Regions from separate parts of the Homo sapiens genome. Here all the other regions are linked to region 3. The links come from fine-mapping of genetic effects on gene expression. A gene starts in region 3. Each other region holds a variant in brackets. All regions are shown on one strand. Distances are from middle to middle.

Region 1 (4,222 bases), 150 kb after region 3:
CTGTCACACTTGTTCAAGTAGTTTCAAACGTAGAAAATTAAGTATCAGAGGCAGGTATAGGGAGCAATGTAGTCTTTTTTTTTTCTTCAATTTTAAAAATTTTAAATTGTGGTAGAAGCAATGTATCCTTAAGGTGAAAAACCTACCTCAGTTACATGTGGTTTGTGTTTTCTGGATTAATCTGGATTTTATAATTAGAAATAAAAATGTAAGATTTTGAATCCACTTAATAATTTCTTGAAAATAATACAAGTCAGTGTAATAGAGAAGCATTCATATATTCAACACTGTAAGACAAAACAGCAGAGACCTTGGATTTGATAATTGATCTGATATCCTGGACAGTATTCATATGTACAGTGATAGGTATGTTTCTTTGGGGTTTTTTTGTGTGCATATGTGTGTAGTTTTATCGTTCTGAGTTGGTGACCAGTAAGTTCCATGTAGTGCTGGCACTTATTTAATAACTATTCATGATTTTGTTAATAACTTGTTACAGGATTCAGGCATATATTTTCAGCATAAGAAGCCAGACACACCAGCTTGTCATTGGAGATAATATATTAAGTGAGAAAAACATTCAGGAATCAGAACTTTAACATGTTAAAGTTAGTGCTAAACATGGTCATATTGGGTCTGAACCTATCCTAATATGTAACCATAAAGCTTGACTTTTGCATTGGAACTATGCTTTCATAAATAAAGGATATCCCATGGGATTGTAATTGTAATCCCATATTATCTGTAATTGTAATTCCCATATTATCTGAGAAGTAGTGTGACACCTTTCTTTTGTTGTTACATTAAGCTGAAAACATAATACTAATAGACGACTAACAGTTTGCTTATCAGGCACATCAACTAAGGCACCTCCCCCCATGCTAAGTTTCTCCTGGATATATGGAAGTTGGTTGTTTCCCAGTTTAAAAACTTGAACTAATATTACCTAAGAAAACCTGAGCCCATATTGTTTTTATTTTACTTAGCTAGAATCTCATAGCATGTTAAAGTCATACCTTATCCCCACTAAAAATAACTATGTCTATGTGAGAGGAATATTATGTGTGGGAGCTGTATTAAATACTATTATAGGTGTTACAGAATCTTTAAATAAATGGACGTGGACCAACCTTCCATCTAGTAGTGTACGATCTATATAGTGCATGTCAGTAGCACAAAATGCAGTCTTAGTTAGCATTAGCCTGTCTAATCTGAATAGTTTACTCAAAAGTACTTCTTTGTGTTAATTATTCAGCCATTGTTTTTAGATCTAGTTAATAGGTTCTATTTAATTTGCTGCAACATTTATTGAATGGGTGAGTGAAAGAACTGATGCATATTGGGAAATATCTTACCATTTTTTAAAGATAATGTTACATTAGGAAAAGAACACTTTTAAGGAATTTATAGCAGTGATGAAATGAATTCAGTCTATATCAGATACACCAAACTGTTGATGGTATTTAAATGTGACTGCAAGTTAGTATTTCTGTATATATTATTGATTACTGGTTTGTTTTTAGATATGTAAGTCTGTCCTAATCTACGGTTCACGTATTGACAGTTGCTCTGGTAATAATAGAATGTTAGTGATGATCACTTGGTGGATGTTGATTAAGTGCCTGTGTTTTGTTTTGTTTCCTCCTCTGGATACCAAATAGGTGTATGCTACTTTTTTGGTGAACTTATTTCTTGGAAGATTTGGTTATGCTATTCAGGGTTTTTATTCTTATGTTTTTCTTCTAAACTTAAGCAGCATCCTGCTGCTACCATATTAAAGCTCAAATTTAACTTTTGTGGAAAAATCAGCTAATTCAGGTAATCCAAATATTTGTGGAAAAACATCTGGGTAATTTATTGACCACATTAGTATTGTGTAGACAGCTTTGATTATTCCCATTGCATAGGTTTTTATTGTAGAATAGTCAACTTAATATAGATTCACTTTTAATTTACATGTATAAAGTAATACTCAATAAAAATTTTTTCATTTATTTAAAAAAAAGAAAACTAAGCAATCTGGCTCTAGACTCCATACTTTTAGATTGCTGTACCATTTCTCATCATAATGCTTGACTCTTAGGTGATATTTTGTCTTCTCCTGAGTCAGGCCTGGTGGTTACTATTTTCCCATTTTACAGATGAGGAAATTGAAGCCCAGAGAGGGGATTTGACTTGCTCAAGATCACAGAAATTTTCTGGTGTAATGGAAGGGGCTGTGAGCCCAGGCCAGATCTCCTGCAGTAGATAATAATCACACTAGCAGTTTTTAATTAATTTATTTATTTTTTTGAGACAGAGCATCGCTCTGTCGCCCAGGTTGGAGTGCAGTGGCGTAAACTCGGCTCACTGCAACCTCCGCCTCCCGGGTTTAAGTGATTCTCCTGCCTCAGCCTCCCAAGTAGCTGGGATTACAGGCACGCGCCACCACGCCCAGCTAATTTTTTTGAATTTTTAGTAGAGACG[G/A]GGTTTCACCATGTTGGTCAGGCTGGTCTCGAACTCCTGACCTCGTGATCCGCCCACCTCGGCCTCCCAAAGTGCTAGGATTACAGGAGCGAGCCACTGCGCCCGGCCACTAGCAGATTGTTTGTTTGTTTGTTTGTTTGTTTTTGGCTTTTTTGTTTTTTCTTTGAGACAGGGTCTCACTCTGTTACCCAGGCTGGAATGCAGTGGTGCAAACATGGGTCGCTGCAACCACTGCCTACCAGGCTTAAACAGTCCTCCCACCACAGCCTCCCAGGCAGCTGGGACTACAGGTACGCGCCATTACACCCAGCTAAATTGTTTTGTATTTTTTGTAGAGATGGGTTTTCCCCATATTACCCCGGCTGGGTGAATGTTTACTGGGTACTTACCAAGTATCAGGGGATGCATTCAGTGTTTTGTATGCATTTTTATTTTTATTTTGAGACAGGATCTGGCTCTGTTGCCCAGGCTGGGGTGCAGTGGCAGACCCTGGCTCACTGCAACCAGTCCTCCCAAGCTCAAGTGATCCTCCTACTTCAGCCTCCTGAGCAGCTGGGACTACAGGTGCACACCACCACACCTGGCAAAGTTTTGTATATTTTTTTGGTAGAGGTGGGGTTTCACCATGTTGCCCAGGCTGGTCTTTTTCTTTTTTAAGATGGAGTCTCGTTCTGTCGCCCAGGCTGGAGTGCAGTGGTGCAGTCTCGGCTCACTGCAGCCTCCGCCTCTCAGGCTCAGGCGATTCTCCTGCCTCAGCCTTCGAGTAGCTGGGATTACAGGCACGCACCACCATGCCCGGCTAATTTGTATTTTTAGTAGAGACGGGATTTTGCGGTGTTGGCCATGCTAGTCTCCTGACCTCAGGTGATCCACCCACCTCAGCCTCCCAAAGTGCTGGGATTACAGATGTGAGCTACCTTGCCCGGCCCTATGTGCATTTTTAAACTACAGTCACAACAGCCAGAGATATTAGATGCTCTCTGCATTCCCATGTTACGGATGAGGAACCTGAGGCCCCAGAGCAGTGACTGTCTGAGGTCATGTGCTTGATCGTCAGCAGAGGTAGGATTCAAACCCTGGCTTACTGACTCCCAGTCCAGTGCTCCTCATGTTGCACCAGATGCCCCGGAAGGGCAGCGGGGTTGAGAGTAGGCAGCCAGCAGGTGGGTCCGAGGGTTCATCTCTACCTGCTTTCTTCATGTCACTGCTGTCTATGGGTTTAGCTAACCCTGTTTTTAAAAACCTATTTATAGCTTAAGACTGTACCACCACTTGGGATAATGAGTCCCTTAAGTTGACTTCCCACGGTGTAAATTAAGATTTCCTTCTATTTGTCCTAAATCTTTCTCTTTCAGTATTGGAGGGGGATGGGGTAGTGGGGAAATGCCCTAGGGCCACAACACTTGGATTTAGAAAATAGGCTGAATGGGCTGGGTGCGGTGGCTCATGCCTGTAACCCCAGCACTTTGGGAGGCCAAGGTGGGTGGATCACCTGAGGTCAGAGTTTAAGACCAGCCTGGCCAACCTGGCGAAACCTCGTCTCTACTAAAAATACAAAAATTAGCTGGGCATAATGGCGGACGCCTGTAATCCCAGCTACTCGGGAGGCTGAGGCAGGAGAATTGCTTGAACTGGGGAGACAGAGGTTGCAGTGAGCCAAGATTGTGCCACTGCACTCCAGCCTGGGCCACAGAGCAAGACTCTGTCTCAAAATAAATAAATAAATAAAATAAAAGAAAAAGAAAATAGGCTGAAG
Region 2 (4,222 bases), 30 kb before region 3:
ACATGAGAGGCAGTTTTTCTCCCTGTCCCTGTCAAACATCATTTGATCTCTTTGGAAAACCATCTCTGCCAAGTGACCCTGGACCTGCCAATGGGGTATGGGGAGTAACCACAGGGTCAGACCTCTGACAGCTGTTTTTTGTGGCAGAGGAAAGGACGGCCTCCTGGACACATCCTGTCAAGCGACCGGGCAGCCGCCGGCATGGTGTGAGTAGGGACCAACAGTGTGGTGAGAGCATAGGGGAGCAGACGGAGAGAGGGGCCCTGAAGGAAAAGAGTCCAGGGTTCTGTGCCTGTCAAAATCAGATCCATCAGCTTAAGTCATCGTGGAGGGGGGTTATCCTGGTTGGAGGGGTGAGGAAGGAGGGTAGTGAGGAGGAAATTGTTTTACCCCCTGAACGGTTTGGCCCAGCTTGATGAAAGATTAAACTCCAGAGGTTTGTCATTGTTAGTATATATTGGATGCTTATGACTGGTCTAAATACGTTACATACTTTACCTTTTAATCTTTATAGCCACCCTGTAAAGAAGATATCATTAATTTTTCAGATAACAGACTCAGAGAATTACTTGCCTAATGTCATATCGTTAACATTGCCTCCAAGACGGTCATTTTCAAATATATATTTTTTTAAGACTTAATTTTTTTAGAGCAGTTTTAGGTTCACAGCAAAATTGAGAGGAAGGTACAGACATATCCCGTATACTCCCTGACCCTACACATGCACAGCCTCCCCCATTATCGACATCAGGCACCAGAGTGGTACATTTGTTACATTTGATGAGCCTACTTTGACTCGTCTTGATCCTCAGAGTGCATAGTTTCCATGAGGGTTCACTCTTGGTATTGTACATGAACTTAGACAAATGCATAGTGACAGGCATCCACCATTCTAGTATCACACTGAGTGCTTTCAGTGCCCTAAAAATCCTCTGTGTTCTGCCTGTTCATCCTTCCTTCCCCCTCAACCAACCCCCAACCCCACTTTTTAAAAAAAATTCTGAAGCAGCAGAATCTTTTTCAAACAAAACTTTACATGGGAGCCCAGTATTTAAATCAAATAAAGCCACACTGGTCTGGTTCAGGGGCGTGGGGTTAGTTTGGAACAGCTGGCTTAGTAGATGGGCTAGTATTAACTGTCATACCTTAGATGTGTCTCCTACACGAAGCAGTTTTATTCCTCACAAACACAAGATAGGTAGGGCAGTTGCTGTTTTTGTCTCTTTTGACAGATGAGAAAACTGCCACTCAGAGGTTCTTGGAGTTGCTCATGCCACTATGTAAGAGCAGAGCTAGTGCTAGAATGGCTTCTAGTCCAGTGCTTTTTTTCCCTTTGTTCCTCCTCTTATGTGTCACCACGAAGGAGGATGTCCAGGGCTAAAGTGAGAGTGTGTGAGGAACTCCTACCACCACCAGCAAGCTGGCATTTAGTCCTAGGTCTCACCTTGGAGAATTCACCTTTATTCTTTCCTTCCAAGCAGATGGAAACCAAAATCCTGTGAACCAATTCGCCGGGAAGGCCCCAAGGTATGATTATGTGAGCATGGCAGAGATCACGATCCCAGGAGATAGTCCCACTATCTCTAGGACCCACCATGAGGGAAAGGGGCAGGGGGCGAAGGGTGCATGCACACCATTCCAGAGCCATCTGCCCCTCTCCACCTCCAGCCACACTGGCCTCAGAGAGGATCCTGTGTAGGAATTGGAGTTAGAGGCAAAACAAAGAGAGGGCTTGAGTCTTTGCTGAAGCCTTCTCCTTATAGGAGTTAGTGGTCACTAATACTGATTCAATACTTAGTATGTAACGGGCAGTGTCCTAAATCTTTTGTGTAGACCATCTCATTTAATCTTTATAACAAACTTATGAGATCAATTCTGTGAACCATTCTATAAATGAGGCGTTTCCTTTTCTGCCAGCTTCCCTGTGGGCATAAATTATTTTATTCAGTTGTCTTATACACTTAATGCACTTAAGACTTGCCCAAAGTCACATAACTCGTAAGTGATCGAGCTGAGTCTCAAACCCAAGACCCGCTGACACCAGAGTCTGTGCTCTCAACCATTAGCCTCTGTTGCCTCCCTCTCTCTCCTGAGTTCTTCCTCAGCAGTGACTTATATAAATGGTTGTTCCCCAGAATTCTCTCCTTGGCCCACTTCTCCATCTAAAGTAACTCTCTGGATAATCTAAAACATATACTCTTATGGTTTCAGGGACCACCATGTTCTAAAACTCCCATACCTCTTTGTCCATCCCATGCCTCTTTCTACTTTAAAACTTGTTTATCCTACTATCTGCTTGACCACTCTGCTGGAAGTTTCATAGGCATTTCAGACTCAGCATATCCAAACATGAAATTAGAATCTTTCCTCACAGCCCTTCTTTACATTCGTTATCTTAATCATCTTTGCCTCCTCCTCCTCTTCCTTACCTCCCTACACCCAGTCGAGTCCTGGACAATTCTTCCTCTTAAATATATTGCAGTTCCTATTTCCTTCT[G/C]TTCATCCTTACTGCTGCCCTAGCTCAGGCCCTTAGCAGCTTTCCAACTGCTTTATCACAGCGGCCTCTAAACTGCTCTCCCTGCCTGTAGTCTTGCCCCTTCAAATCCATTATCCACATTGCTAGAAGACTAAGCTATCTTTAAAGGAAATCTGACTCTCACTCCCTGTTTAGAGGCCTTCAGCGATTCCCCATTGCCTACAGAAGAAATAAAATGCAGTCCCCTGAACATAACCTCCTAAGACCTCCAACTCCTCTGTGTTTCTCTCTCCAGCCCCATCAGCTGCCACTCCCTAATTTGTACTCTCTCTGTTAGCAGCACAGAATTACTAGTAGTTTCTCCAGCAGGCCAAGCTGCCTCTCACCTGTCTTTGCTCATGCTGCCCCCTGTCTGGAATGCCCTTGTTCCTGACCCCCTTTACCCCAACTTGTGCTCACCCTTTCAGAATTAACTTGGGAAATGCCTCTCTAAGGAAGCCTTCCTGGCTGGACCCTCCCCTCGGCAGCCCTCAGACCCTGCACTCACTTGTGTCCTTGCCTCATCGCACAATGGTGTAATTATCTGTACATATGTTGGTGGCATCCTAGAAAACAGAGACTGTATCTTATTCATCTCTTTATCCCCAGTATCTAGCACAGACAGGGCCTAGCATATTGTGAGTACTCAGTGTCTTGGGTCAACTGTTGATTAAATAATAGACAAGGGGAAGGGTTAGAAAAGGGTAGGGGGAGGAGTGTTTCTGTCCTACCCATCAGATTAAACTTCACCCTCACGAGCTTCTCTATTTTTTGCACAGTGGGACCCAGCTCGCCTGAATGAATCTACCACCTTTGTGTTGGGATCTCGAGCCAACAAGTAAGTTTAAGAGCTTTGGCACTGATTGAGGAAACAGCTCAGGAGTTCACTAGTAGGACTACACTTTCTGGAATCTTGACCACTTGGCTTTTACTTTTCAGAGCCCTGGGGATGGGGGGCACCAGAGGAAGAATCTACATCAAGCACCCACACCTCTTTAAGGTAGGTGACTGCTGGGAGGAAAGCAGGCCATTGCATTGGGAGTAGACTGGGAACTCCACTCAGCACAGAGAAGCTTAGAACAAACACTGATCTTGGAGTCAGGACATCTGGGTTCTAGTTGTGCCTCTGCCATTCACCTTTCCCTTTCATGATTTACTCAACACCTCTGTGCCTCAGTAATAACAGCTACTTTGCTTGCATGCTTACTGGGTGCCAAACACAGTTTTAAATCCCACACTTATATTATCTTAAAAAATAAGTATTGCCATCCTTATTTCACAAATTTGAAACAATCAGAGGTTGAGAAAGGCTGAGTGACTTGCCCACAGTTATTCAGCTAGAAATGGTGAGTCAGGATTCAAATCCAGGTCTGTCCTCACCAAAGCCTGAGCTCTTAACCACTACCATATTTGGTTGTCTGTAAATTAGAGTTTGGGCCAGGTGCGTGAGCTCACACCTGTAATCCCAGCACTTTGGGAGGCCAAGGCGGGTGGATCACCTGAAGTTGGGAGTTCGAGACCAGCCTGACCAACATGGAGAAACCCTGTCTCTACTAAAAATACAAAATTAGCTGGCATGGTGGCTCATGCCTATAATTCCAGCTACTCAGGAGGCTGAGGCAGGAGAATCGCTTGAACCCAGGAGGCGGAGGTTGTGGTGAGCCGAGATCACACTGCCCTCATATTTGCATTTTAAAATAACTCTGG
Region 3 (4,222 bases):
CTGCTCTAACAACCCATGGTTTCATGAAGACCAGCTTTGTGCCCAGACATGTAAGGCATATACCGAAGGACAAGTTATTTTTTAACCAATGGTTGGTGAATGAGTGAGTGTTGAATTAATGAATGAAGTATGCCTTTTTTGTCCCAATATCTTGCCCATAAGCCAAATGAAGAGTAATTCGAGGTTTGAAATTGTGCAAACTGGCCAGGCACAGTGGCTCACGCCTGTAATCCCAGCACTTTGGGAGGTAGAGGCAGGTGGATCACTTGAGGCCAGGTGTTCCAGATCAGCCTGGCCAATATGGTGAAACCCCACCTCTACTAAAAATACAAAAATTAGCCGCATGGTGGCACATGCCTGTAGTCCCAGCCACTCAGGAGGCTGAGGCAGGAGAATTGCTTGAACCTGGGAGGCAGAGGTTACAGTGAGCCAAGATTGCATCACTGTACTCCAGCCTGGGCGACAGAGCAAGACTCTGTCTCCCTCTCTAAAAATAAATAAATAAATAAATAAAATTGCACAAACTTAGGCTTAAAATCCCAGCCCCTCTATTTCCCAGATGTGGATCTTGGGGAAGTCACTTTGCCTCAGTTTCTTCATCTTGAAAATGGACCATTAATGTCCAGTTACAGCCTCTTCCCCAGGACGCTGTGAGGGAGAGATGTGACAGTAAAGTGCCTAGAGCAGGATGTAGAAAGTGGACCCTCAGAAAATAAGAACCCCAGCCTTTCTGCTCACATGGGAGGGCAGGGAGCTGAAATACCTTCTGCTTATCCCAAGGCATTTTCCCCCACCCTTCTCTCCTGTGCCACTCAGAAAGGGTAGGAGCTACTTTGGAGAGATTTTGATTTTATTTATTGTATTGTATAACTATCAAAATCTGCCCTAACAACTGATACCTAGGCTTTGTGACAGGAAGCCACAATAACTTTTTCTTGACCTGCAGCTGCCCTGCGGATAAAAGATAAAACAAAGCTGGGGAGCCACTGAGATTATCAGGCCTGCTGCACAGGAAAAGGGCAGTATGCAGCAGGGGACCTGGGCTCCAGGCCCCATACTCAGAAACCTCTGAGGGAGGCAGAGGCAGGTGGATCACTTGAGCCCAGGAATTCGAGACCAGCCTGGGCAACATGGCCAAATCCCATCTCTACAAAAAATACAAAAATTAGCTGGGTGTGGTGGCGAACGCCTCTATTCCTAGCTACTGGGGAGGCTGAGGTGGGAGGGATGACCTGAGCCCAGGGAGGCGGAGGTTGCAGTAAGCAGAGATGGTGCCACTGCACTCCAGCCTAGGTGACAGAGTGAGACTCCATCTCAAAAGAGAAAGAAAGAAAGAAAGAGAGAGAGAGAAAGAAAGAAAGAGAGAGAGAGAAAGAAAGAAAGAAACCTCTGGCAAGCTGTGTGGTTAAGCCAAGTAACTCACCCTCTCTGGTCCTCAGTTTCCCTGTTTGCCTACTTCCCATGTGTGAGGTTCAAATCAGATTGTGCAAGCCTGTGAACACTGTAGAAACAATAATCATTATGTAAGTGATCATTTCGTCAGCCTTTGCTCTATGCCAGGCACGGGACGAGCGTTCTTACAAGAGCTGCAAAATTAGTTTTAGCAGTATTGTTCCTGTTTTACATATGAGAAAACCTAGGCTCAGCGAGGTCAGATTCCAACCAACCCAAATCACGCATCTTCTCCTGGCCCTTCGTTTTCTCTCGGGAGACATGGCCTCCCTACTATTGCATAATTACTTTGTGAAGTTAAAGAGCGTTGGGTGGAAATGAGTGGGACAGATTGGAGATGACGTGGGTGGGGTGGGAGGATTCAAGGAGGGTACGCGCCTGGCCGGACTGGGATGACTCTGCGGCAGGCCTGGGACTCCCTCAGGCCGACCCAGGCTTCCCAAGTCCCTCCTGGAGCCAAGGGCCCGGGATTCTCGGGCGGCTCGGGCGAGCGGGCGGGGCAGGAGGCGGGGCGGCGGCAGGAAGCTGCCCGAGCGGCGCTCTGAGCGGCCTGAGCCCGGCGGAGCCCTGCAGAACCCGGCCGACCTCCATGGGCTGCGGGGGGCTGCACCCGGACCCCTGGGGCGCGGCGCGCCCCTGAATGCACCGTGGGACGCAGGAGGTAGAGGCGCACGAGGCGGCGCAAGAGACATCGGGAGGGTCCTGAGCCCCTCCGGGGAGGAACGCGGTCCTAGGCTGAGTGGGTTGGGGGGAAAGCGATGCTGGCTGGGTCCCCTGGTTCGCAAGACCTCGGACTGCCAGGGGGTGGGGCCTCACCGCGCCCCTCCCTCTCCGGTTCGGGCCCCGCCCCTCCTCCTCCTGCGCCGGGCTGGGGTACCCCTCCTCCGGGATCCGGTACACAGCGTCGCGCGCTCCCCCCAGGGTGCCATGGCCTCCCGGCTCCTGCACCGGCTGCGGCACGCCTTGGCCGGCGACGGCCCCGGGGAGGCGGCGGCCAGTCCAGAGGCCGAGCAGTTTCCGGAGAGCTCAGAGCTGGAGGACGACGACGCCGAGGGCCTGTCCTCCCGACTCAGCGGCACCCTCAGCTTCACCAGCGCCGAGGACGACGAGGACGACGAGGACGAGGACGACGAGGAGGCTGGCCCTGACCAGCTGCCCCTCGGGGATGGGACGTCAGGAGAAGACGCAGGCGAGTGCAGGAGGACGGAGGCGGGAACCCTGGGGCTCGATTAGGCCTCCATCCCAGCCGCGTTCCCAGAGCATCCAGGGCGCTAAGTTGATCCAGCTGAAACTCCCACACTTCTTAAAGCGCCTGGGCCACCTCTTGGCTGTGTGACCTTGAGAGAGTCTTAACCCCCCTCTGAGCCAAGTTTTCCCTTGTGTCAAGTGGGAGAACTCACTCTCATCTCAGAATTGCTGCAGGCATTAAATGTACAGGGCTTGGGATCCGAATGGAAATGATGTATTAACGATATTTTGAGGGTGGAGCTATTAATTTAGCCCCTACTGTCTGCCAGGCACGGTGTTTGGCTCCTCGGTGCCTCTCTGTCCCTCAGTTTCCATTTCTGTAAAAAGGGGGTAAGTCCTGCCTCACACTGGGAGGATGAGTGAGGCCACGTCAGTGGTTGATGTCGACCCTGGCCCTAGGCCCATTGATATGACTGGTCATGTGTCTGCAGAACGGAGCCCCCCACCTGATGGGCAGTGGGGCAGTCAGCTCCTGGCGCGGCAGCTGCAGGATTTCTGGAAGAAGTCCCGGAACACCTTGGCACCCCAGCGGCTGCTCTTCGAAGTGACCAGCGCTAACGTTGTCAAGGACCCGCCCTCCAAGTACGTGGTGAGTGAGGGTCTAGAACCCCTGGGCTGTGAGTCCAGAAGTATGGCTAGGAGCAAGTAGGGAAGACCCCAACTTCCTGAGGGGTCTATGTAGTTATAAATGGTTACCTTGTTTACAAATGGGGAAACTGAGGTCAGAAAGGGGATGTAACTTGAGCAAATCCTCACACAAGACTTAGTTTCCTTGAGACTGACTGAAGTGGGGATTAAGGACCTTCCTCTTAACCTGGTTTTGAGACTAAGAGAACTGGTGTGTGCACTTCCCCACCCAGCCCACAAGGTTTTTGCAAATTGTAGCAAGATGTGAGATACAGAGAGACAGATGTTATCTGGGTCAAACTTGAGATCCAAGTTGCATGGGCTGGTAGTTAAGGAAATAGGCTTTCGATCCAGACCAATCTTGACTCCCACTTATTTCCAGTTGTTTGACTCTGGGTGAGTTGTTTAACCTTGGTCATCTTCCGTTTCCTCATTATAGCAATGGGGAAAATGCAGAAGATTACAGCAGGAGTTAAATGAGACAATGGACAAAAAGCCCTTAGCAGTGTGCCTGGCATTATGACGTGGTCAATGAAATGGTAGCTATGTCATCATTATTTAACTTTGGGTTGAAAATGTTTGTCATCTAGGGCCTGCTGTGTCCTTATAACGCACAGGTCAATCAGTTCTCAAGCACCCGACCTTGTCCCTAAGGGCTAGACTTAGAGGGTTGGTGGAGGTTAGGATGAAGAGCAATGTTGGGGAGGACCTTGGAGTCCCTTGCTGTTTTCCTTGCTGTTGAGAGACTGACTTGGAGAATGAGGTCTGCTCCTTTAATGCCCACAGCGACTCCTGCTCCAGTCCCTTTTCAGGCCAGGCCTGAAAGCCAGCTGAGCTGGCCACTCCTGTCAGTGGCAGCTCTCCATCTCTCACTCCCCTCCTCTTCACCACCCTT

What was found. PIP is the estimated chance that this variant, and not a neighbour inherited with it, causes the effect. A credible set is the group of variants that fine-mapping cannot tell apart.
Region 1: its variant is the best candidate, but not a certain one, in a credible set for the expression of SNX21 in whole blood (INTERVAL, PIP 0.86).
Region 2: its variant is the best candidate, but not a certain one, in a credible set for the expression of SNX21 in whole blood (INTERVAL, PIP 0.75).

Annotation. Positions count from the first base shown.
Region 1 is chr20:45,977,902-45,982,123 of GRCh38, forward strand. No RefSeq gene overlaps it. Among named protein-coding and RNA genes, the nearest start is that of ZNF335, 7.8 kb to the left of the region's middle. The variant G/A (reference allele first, on the strand shown) is at 2,467.
Region 2 is chr20:45,801,852-45,806,073 of GRCh38, forward strand. DNTTIP1 (deoxynucleotidyltransferase terminal interacting protein 1) reads left to right here. Exons shown (of 13, transcript NM_052951.3): 7 at 148-206; 8 at 1,482-1,527; 9 at 3,295-3,353; 10 at 3,455-3,515. Among named protein-coding and RNA genes, the nearest start is that of UBE2C, 8.7 kb to the right of the region's middle. The variant G/C (reference allele first, on the strand shown) is at 2,498.
Region 3 is chr20:45,831,828-45,836,049 of GRCh38, forward strand. It overlaps SNX21 (sorting nexin family member 21), which reads left to right and starts at 1,972. Exons shown (of 4, transcript NM_033421.4): 1 at 1,972-2,113; 2 at 2,374-2,641; 3 at 3,132-3,289. The coding sequence starts at 2,093. It also overlaps a transcript of TNNC2 not described here. RefSeq lists silencers at 2,016-2,325, 2,346-2,465, 2,506-2,555.